Regions from separate parts of the Homo sapiens genome. Here all the other regions are linked to region 1. The links come from fine-mapping of genetic effects on gene expression. A gene starts in region 1. Each other region holds a variant in brackets. All regions are shown on one strand. Distances are between the middles of the regions.

Region 1 (2,768 bases):
CTGACCCAAGTTCTCATTAAGTGACCCAAAGACTCTTCTGCATCACTATGCTTTCTCTAATCAGAAGCTGGGCTGTGCACTGAAATAAAAACATTCTAACCAATACATTTTTCAAATTATTACTATAGTACTCGTTTAAACACCTGTATTCAAAGCTTCTCACTAATCATCTAGCTTTATCAAGTAACACACACAAGTTAATATACACTATGACTGCCTTGGTAGCCGCAGTTTGACTAAATTCTGGGACACCACCTCAACTTGGAAGGGACAGAACTATATCCGGTTCTCATTAGATACACATTTTCTCATGCTTTCCATCTTAAAGACTTTACACTTTCCCAGAGGAGCAATAAATGTAGGAAGACGCCAGGTAGTATGCCTGTAAGGAAGATAAGTGATCAGATTAAATTCCTACCCAAGAAACCTGAAACTTCAAAAACTTTTCCTAACAAACCACAGATGAAAAGGACAAAGTATGATTTACCCCTTCATTTCCACTTCTTTTCTGGAGCCAGCTTCCCAAATTCCTGAACAGCAGTCTTAACTTACTGGTTAGTTGGAGGAGCGGTCAACGGTATGGCCACCTCTTCCTCCTCGTATTCTGGTCCATCCAGAGAGTCACCTTCGTCCACTGTCCCGAGGCCCGCCCCCAAAGGGGGCAGGTAAGGGGGAGGGGGCAGAGGGGGAAAACCGCCGCCTGGCCCGAGAGTCTCAGCAAGCAACGAAGTGGGCAGTTTGGTGAGAGCCATGTCTCCACTAGGTCCAGCAACAGCAGCACCGGCCACGCCAGCAGCAGCACCAGCTACGCCAGCAGCAGTACCTCCCCCTGTCAGTCCAGCTCCCCCCAGTGCCCCTGCCACAGACCCGGCTCCTAGGAACTCTGACCCCAAAGCGGCTCCGCCACCCAGAGTTCCAGCCACTCCGGTCTCCACCAGCCCAGGATAGGGGGCGGCTGCCACAGGCAGGGCCGCGGGTATCTTCACCCGACACACTGCGGGATAGGCACTGGAGCCCGCTGCCGCGCCGCCTCCTCCAGCTCCGGCTGTTACCGGGCCGCCCTCCTCACTGCCGGCCTCGGCCGCCATCATGTTGAAGCCCGCTCTACTCTGCCCTACCCTGCCCGCCCGGGAGCCCCAGGGGCCACCAGGCCCGGGCTCCGAGCAGCCCCACCCAGACGCGTCTCCCCTTCAGCTCCCCAGGCTGAGGAAACAACAACAAAAGGAGAGAGCCCGCCGCCGCGCCCCCTCCTAGGGCCACAGCCCAGGCTCCCCAGCTGCCTGGGTTACGGGAAGCCAAGTGGGCAAAAAACCCAACGCCTGCACAAACGCCACCCAAACCTCACCGCACACACCCACACTCACGCACACAAACACATGTACAGAAGCGAAAACTTCCTCGCTGCACTAAAGAGGAAAGGAAGCACAGGGAAAGAGGCTGAGGCTGCTACCGCTCCTTCAGCCGCCACCACCGCTTCTTCACCACCCCAGTTCCGGCCACCCACACCGCAGCCACCGCCGGTGCCGCTGCTGAGGCTGGGGCCACTGCAGCCGCTTCATCCTCCACCAGGCAGATGAGAGGGGTGGGGGGGCAAGAGAAAGGGGGGCGGGGTAACGAGGAAATCGACTGAACTGCTCACTACCTGGAGCTCTCAGTGAGTGAAACGGGAGAGAGAGAAAGGAAGGCGGGGCAGGGGAGGAGGGACGGAGGGAAGGAAGGGCGGAGAAGGGAGAGGGCAGCTTGTGCGCAGGCGCGTTCCCGGAGCGGGGGCGGGGGGCCGGGCCGGGAGGAAAAGGAAGAGTCCAGAGGGAAGGAAGCGGCGGGGACGCGCGGTGCGTGGTCGCGCTTGCTGTCCTCCTCCGGTTCCAAGCGTGTGGCGGCGCGGCCGCATCTCCTGTTGGCGTGGCCGGCGGCGCGCGCCTGTCTCCCGGGGCTTTGTTTGATGGGCGGGAGAAGAGGGAAGGGTACCTGAGCACGCGGGTGCTTGGCGCTGTTAAAGCCGGAGAGACCAGAGGGGGACCAGGAGGCGGTGGAGAGGAAGGAGGGGGAAAGGGAAAGGAAAATGCCCAGAAACTAGTTCCGTACTTCCTGACCAGTGGAAAAAACAGCCTTAACCAGCAGCGCAGAAACCGGGCAGGGGTCAGGTAGCTTTGAAGATCGGGGCAGTACTATTAATGTTTTCTTTTTCGTTGCATGCTATAAATCACTATGACTATCTCACACACACACAGTTAAAATAGATTCTGAAACTCCAAAACGAAATAAAGGGCACCATATGAGAAGGGTGAAGAATTTGAGTAGAAATAGTGGTTATGAAGTAAGATTTCTACCAGTATTTGCATACGTTTTTCTTTATCAACTGTCTCATATACTTACCTATGCCATTATAAGTCTGTTGGATACTGATGAAGAGGAGGAGGTGCCACAGAAAACACTAATCAATGCACTTTTGTCCTGGTTTGTGTGCAAAAGACTGCAGGACGTGATCCACAATGCAAGCACCTTCAACAAGTCAAATGTCAAGAATGTCCCAGAATGCTAGTTATAATTATATATCGTTTCAAAAGTAGCAATAAACTGAAAACTCATTTTTAATACAATTAAGGAGAAGGGTGTTATTTTGTCTTTTACACTAAAATGTATACAAACTATGCATTCATGTAGAGGGAGCTTCCCATGGTTTGAAATTAACAATATTGTTAAATTCTCCCAGGAGTGATCCCACATTAAATACCATTGGATATTGATCTTTGAGATCAATATTTTCT
Region 2 (2,768 bases), 210 kb before region 1:
ATATTGGAAATAAGTTCAACAACCAAGATGAAGTAGGTTTCTTAAAAGACACATTTTTCCAAAGTTTACTCAAGAAGAAATAGATAACCCTAATAGTTGTTTTTTGATTTTTTAATTTTTTTTTGGTTTGTATAACAATTTTTTTTTTCTTTTTTTCAGATTTTTTTTTTATTATTTTACTTTAAGTTCTGGAATACATGTTCAGAACATGCAGGTTTGTTACATAGGTATACGTGTGCCATCGTGTTTTGCTTCACCCATCAACCCATCATCTAGGTTTTAAGCCCCGCATGCATTAGGTATTTTTCCTAATGCTATCCCTCTCCTTTCCTCCCAACCCCCAACAGACCCCAGTGTGTGATTTTCCCCTCCCTATGTCCACGTGTTCTCACTGTTAAACTTCCACTTATGAGTGAGAACATATGGTATTTGGTTTTTTGTTCCTGTGTTAATTTACTAAGAATGCTTAATCCATGCCCCTGCAAAGGACATAAACTCACTCTTTTTTTATGGCTGCATAGTATTCCATGGTGTACATGTGCCACATTTTCTTTATCCAGTCTATCATTGATGGGCATTTGGGTTGGTTCCAAGTCTTTGCTATTGTGAATAGTGCCACAATAAACATATGTGTGCATGTGTCTTTATAGTAAAATGATTTATAATCCTTTCAGTATATACCCAGTAATGGGATCGCTGGGTCAAATGGTATTTCTGGTTCTAGATCCTTGAGGACTCGCCATCTGGTCTTCCACGATAGTTGAACTAATTTACACTTCCACCAACAGTGTAAAAGCATTCCTATTTGTCCACATCCTCTCCAGCATCTGTTGTTTCCAGACTTTTTAATGATTGCCATTCTAACTGGTGTGAGGTGGTATCTCATTGTGGTTTTGATTTGCATTTCTCTAATGTCCAGTGGTGATGAGCTTTTTTTCATGTTTGTTGGCCACATAAATGTCTTCTTTTGAGAAGTGTCTCTTCATATCCTTTGCCCACTTTTTGATGGGGTTGTTTGATTTTTCTTGTAACTTTGTTTAAGTTCCTTGCAGATTCTGGATATTAGCCCTTTGTCGATAGATAGATGGCAAAAATTGTCTCCCATTCTGTAGGTTGCCTGTTCACTCTGATGATAGTTTCTTTCACTTTGCAGAAGCTCTTTAGTTTAATTCGATCCCATTTGTCTATTTTAGCTCTTGTTGCCATTGCTTTTGGTGTTCTAGTCATGAAGTCCTTGCCCATGCCTATGTCCTGAATGGTATTGCCTAGGTTTTCTTCTAGGGTTTTTATGGTTTTAGGTCTTAAGTTTAAGTCTTTAATTCATCTTGAGTTAATTTTTGTATAAGGTGTAAGGAAGGGGTCCAGTTTCTGTTTTCTGCATATGATTAGCCAGTTTTCCCATCACCATTTATTAAATAGGGAATCCTTTCCCCATTGCTTGTTTGTGTCAGGTTTGTGGAAGATCAAATGGTTATAGATGTGTGGTGTTATTTCTGAGGCCTGTGTTCTGTTC[C/T]ACTGGTCTATATATCTGTTTTGGTACAAGTACCATGCTGTATTTGTTACTGTAGACTTCTAGTGTAGTTTGAAGTCAGGTAGCGTGATGCCTCCAGCTTTGTTCTATTTGCTAGGATTGTCTTGGCTATACAGGTTCCTTTTTGGTACCATATAAAATTTTAAGTAGTATTTTCTAATTCTGTGAAGGAAGTCAATGGTAGCTTGAGGGAAATAGCATTGAATCTATAAATTACTTTGGGCAGGTTGACCATTTTCATGATACTGATTCTTCCTATCCATGAGCATGAAATGTTTTTCCATTTGTTTGTGTCCTCTCTTATTTCCTTGAGCAGTGGTTTTAGTTCTCCTGGAAAAGGTCCTTCACATCCCTTGTAAGTTGTAATCCTAGGTATTTTATTCTCTTTGTAGCAATTGTGAATGTGAGTTCACTCATGATTTGGTTCTCTGCTTGTCTATTATTGGTGTATAGGAATGCCTGTAATTTTTGCACATTGATTTTTTATCCTGAGACTTTGCTGAAGTTGCTTATCAGCTTAAGGAGTTTTTGAGCTAAGACGATGGAGTTTTCTAAATATAGAATCATGTCATCTGCAAACAGAGGCAATTTGACTTCTTCTCTTCCTATTTGAAAACCTTTTATTTCTTTCTCTTTCCTGATTGCCCTGGCCAGAACTTCCAATACTATGTTTAATAGGACTGGTAAGAGAGGGCATCCCTGTCATGTGCCAGTTTTCAAAGGGAATGCTTCCAGCTTCTGTCCATTCAGTATTATATAGCCTATGGGTTTGTCATAAATAGCTCTTATTATTCTGAGATATGTCCCATCAATACCTAGTTTATTGAAAGTTTTTAGCATGAAGGGCTGTTGAATTTTATTGAAGACATTTTCTGCATCTATTGAGATAACCATGTGGTTTTGTCATTGGTTCTGTTTATGTGATGGATTACATATATTGATTCGTGTATGTTGAACCAGCCTTGCATCCCAGGGGTGAAGCCAAATTGATCGTGGTGGATAAGCTTTTTGATGTGCGGCTGGATTCATTTTGCCAGTATTTTACTGAGGATTTTTGCATTGGTGTTCATCAGGGATATTGGCCTGAAATTTTCTTTTTTTTTTTTTTGTTGTGCCTCTGCCAGGTTTTGGTATCAGGATGATGCTGGCCTCACAAAATGTGTCAGGGAGGATTCCCTCTTTTTCTATTTTTTGAATAGTTTCAGAAGGAATGGTACCAGCTCCTCTTTTTACCTCT
Region 3 (2,768 bases), 22 kb before region 1:
GAATGTAGAGCAACAGGAACTCTCACTCACTACAGGTGGGAATGCAAAATGGTGCAGCCACTATGGAAGACAGTTTGGCAGTTTCTTCCAAAACATACTTTTACTATACTATCCAGCAATCAGGCTTCTTGTTATTTATCCCAATAAATTGAAAACTTCTGGCCACAAAAAAACCTGCATACAAATGTTTATAAGCACCTTTATTCATAATTGCCAAAATCCACAAACCACCACTAGCTGACTGGATAAATTATGGTGCATTCAGACAAAAAAAGAAATTAGCTATCAAACCATGGAAAGAAAGAATGAATCCTAAATGCATGTTATTTAGTGAAAGAAGCCAATGTGAAAAGGCTACATACTGTACAATTCCATCTATACAACATCCTGGAGAAGGTAAAACTATGGAGACAGTAAAAAGATTAGTGACTGACAGGGGCTAAGGGGGAAGGAAGAATGAACAGACAAAATAAACAGGATTTTTAGGCAATGAAACTATTTTGTATGACACCACAATGTGGGATACATGTCATTAAACATTTGTGAAAACCTATAGAATGTACAATGCCAAGAATAAACCCTAATGTAAACTATGAACACTGGGTGACAATAATATGCTAATGTAAGTTCACCACTGGAAACAAATGTGCCAGTGTGCTGGATGTCAACAGTGGGAAAAAGAGGGGGTGGAATATGGGAACTCTACTTTCCCCTCAATTTTGCCATAAAGCTAAAACTGCTCTAAAAAATAAAGTTTATTAATTTTTAAAAAGTGAACTAGGGGAAATAAAATTTTTGTGCCTATCTAGAAGTATTCACCATTTTACTCAAACTGCATTCCTGTCCCTTATACACCACCTTTAACCATTAAATCCAATGCCTTTTTTGATTTTGCATCCTCCTTGTCCTCATTGCCTTGAAATAAATCACTGTAAAAATGGAATACAAATGGGTAAAGATGCAAGGCAGAAGGGTTTCACCCAGAACAAGCTATATAACTTGCTAACTGTCAAGAAACATCATTAAATAGCAAAAGTCAAGATGACTGCTCCAGGATATATAACTTAAACTCAAGTGAGTCAACTATTAAGAGTTGATGGGATATAAGGTTGTTGATCCATTTAACAAAGCTCGAAAGTGACTAATATAGAAACCACAAGGACAATTTATCTATTAACAACAACAACAAAATTAAGCCAGGCACGGTGGCTCATGCCTGTGATCCCAGCACTTTGG[G/C]AGGCCAAGGAGGGAGGATCACTCAAGTCCAAGAGTTCAAGACGAGCCTGGGAAATTGGTGAGAACCTGTCTATACAAAAAATAAAGCATTAGCTGGGCATGGTGGCATGCATCTGTAGTCTTAGTTAATAGGAAGGCTGAGGTGGGAAGATCGCTTGAACCTGGGAGGTTGAGGCTGCAGTGAACAGTGATTACACCACTGCACTCCAACCTGAGAAACAAAGCAAGACCTTGTCTGAAAAAATAATAATAATAAAATAAAATACATGCATGCCTGCATGTATCTCTGCCCAGCCTAATCTCCCCTACAAGCCTACTAAGTGGGAAGCCAAACTGTAATCCTAAGATTCCCTAATGAAGATTGCCAACTAATAAATTTCAACGAAATTACAAATAGAGGGAAAAACCACCATTTTACAGTATCATTACAAGAAAATAAATGATTCAGGTAAAAATAATCAACGGCTATTAAAACCAATGGGTACTTATTATTTATTAATTATAAAGGGAAAGGTATTTTTCATAATAGCAAAATCTGGTGCAACCCACCTTAACCAAGTCCAAACTTAGGTACATCATCAATAGGATAATTGACGTCATGTGCCCTTATGTACTGAGAACTCATGACCTATGGCATATCTCTGCCAGTAATGGTTAATCTAAGTGTAACTATGAGAAAACAATCAAATACAAATTGAGACACATTCTGCAGAACTATCCTAAACTCTTCAAAAATGTTAATGTTACAAAAGAAATAAAAAGCAAAAAGGACTGTTCTAGATTAAAGGAGACAAAAAAGACATAACAATTAAATGCAGTTCATTAAAACAGACAAATATAAACGACACTATAGGAATAACTGACGATATATGAATAATACATTAATGTTAAATTCATTATATTTGGTTTTGTAGGCTATTGTCCTTATTCTTGGGAAATACATGATAAAGTATTTCAATGGAAAAGAACAAGATCTCTGCAACTTACTTTTAAACAGTTCAGCAAAAGTAATATATACATGTGTGTATAAAGAGAAAGGGACAAACTAAAATGTGACAAAATATAAAGTTGCTCAGTATTCTTGCAACTTTTCTGCAAATTTCAAATTTTCCAACACAAATACTTGGGGTAAAGTTGAACATGCAATCTGGACCCAAAAAAAAGCCTATATCCAATAAAAACATTTACATAATAACAAGAATAACTCCACCAGAAACAGATTCCATCCTTGGGCTAAAAAAAGCCCACTCACTTGTACTTAGATGACACCTGACAAGCTAACCCTTAATAAGGCTCCATTTTACATGAGTCCATTATGACCACATCGTTTGCTACAATCCCTATTATTTAAATAAGCCAGTATTACCAAGCAGGTACTGTCAGGTCTTTCTAACCAGAAAACTTGTGTAATTCATTGCACACTGATTTAATTGATTTCGTGTGGTTTAATTCTCTGAGAAAACAATTCTTTCCAAGTTGGTTTGATGACATCGTTGCTGCCACTGTTTGAGAAGGAATCTTTATTTTTTGTC

Which allele goes with the higher level. Alleles are on the strand shown, and positions count from the first base shown. SD is a standard deviation of normalised expression in the study named. Not every link is listed here.
In carriers of allele C in region 3, the expression in testis of the gene that starts at base 1,660 in region 1 tends to be lower than with G alone (small effect, 0.32 SD a copy in GTEx).

The links.
Region 2: its variant is fine-mapped to the expression of RASA1 in tibial nerve (GTEx, PIP 0.98).
Region 3: its variant is fine-mapped to the expression of RASA1 in testis (GTEx, PIP above 0.99). The same link has a PIP of 0.9 or more in tibial nerve.

The regions. Positions count from the first base shown.
Region 1 is chr5:87,266,775-87,269,542 of GRCh38, reverse strand. It overlaps RASA1 (RAS p21 protein activator 1), which reads right to left and starts at 1,660. Exons shown (of 25, transcript NM_002890.3): 1 at 553-1,660. The coding sequence starts at 1,091. RefSeq lists enhancers at 889-938, 696-1,583, 1,637-1,931 and silencers at 1,119-1,298, 1,639-1,888.
Region 2 is chr5:87,476,110-87,478,877 of GRCh38, reverse strand. All of the region lies in intron 1 of LOC105379066 (a long non-coding RNA gene), which reads right to left. Among named protein-coding and RNA genes, the nearest start is that of CCNH, 65 kb to the right of the region's middle. The variant C/T (reference allele first, on the strand shown) is at 1,514.
Region 3 is chr5:87,288,335-87,291,102 of GRCh38, reverse strand. All of the region lies in intron 1 of RASA1 (RAS p21 protein activator 1), which reads right to left. Among named protein-coding and RNA genes, the nearest start is that of RASA1, 22 kb to the right of the region's middle. The variant G/C (reference allele first, on the strand shown) is at 1,237.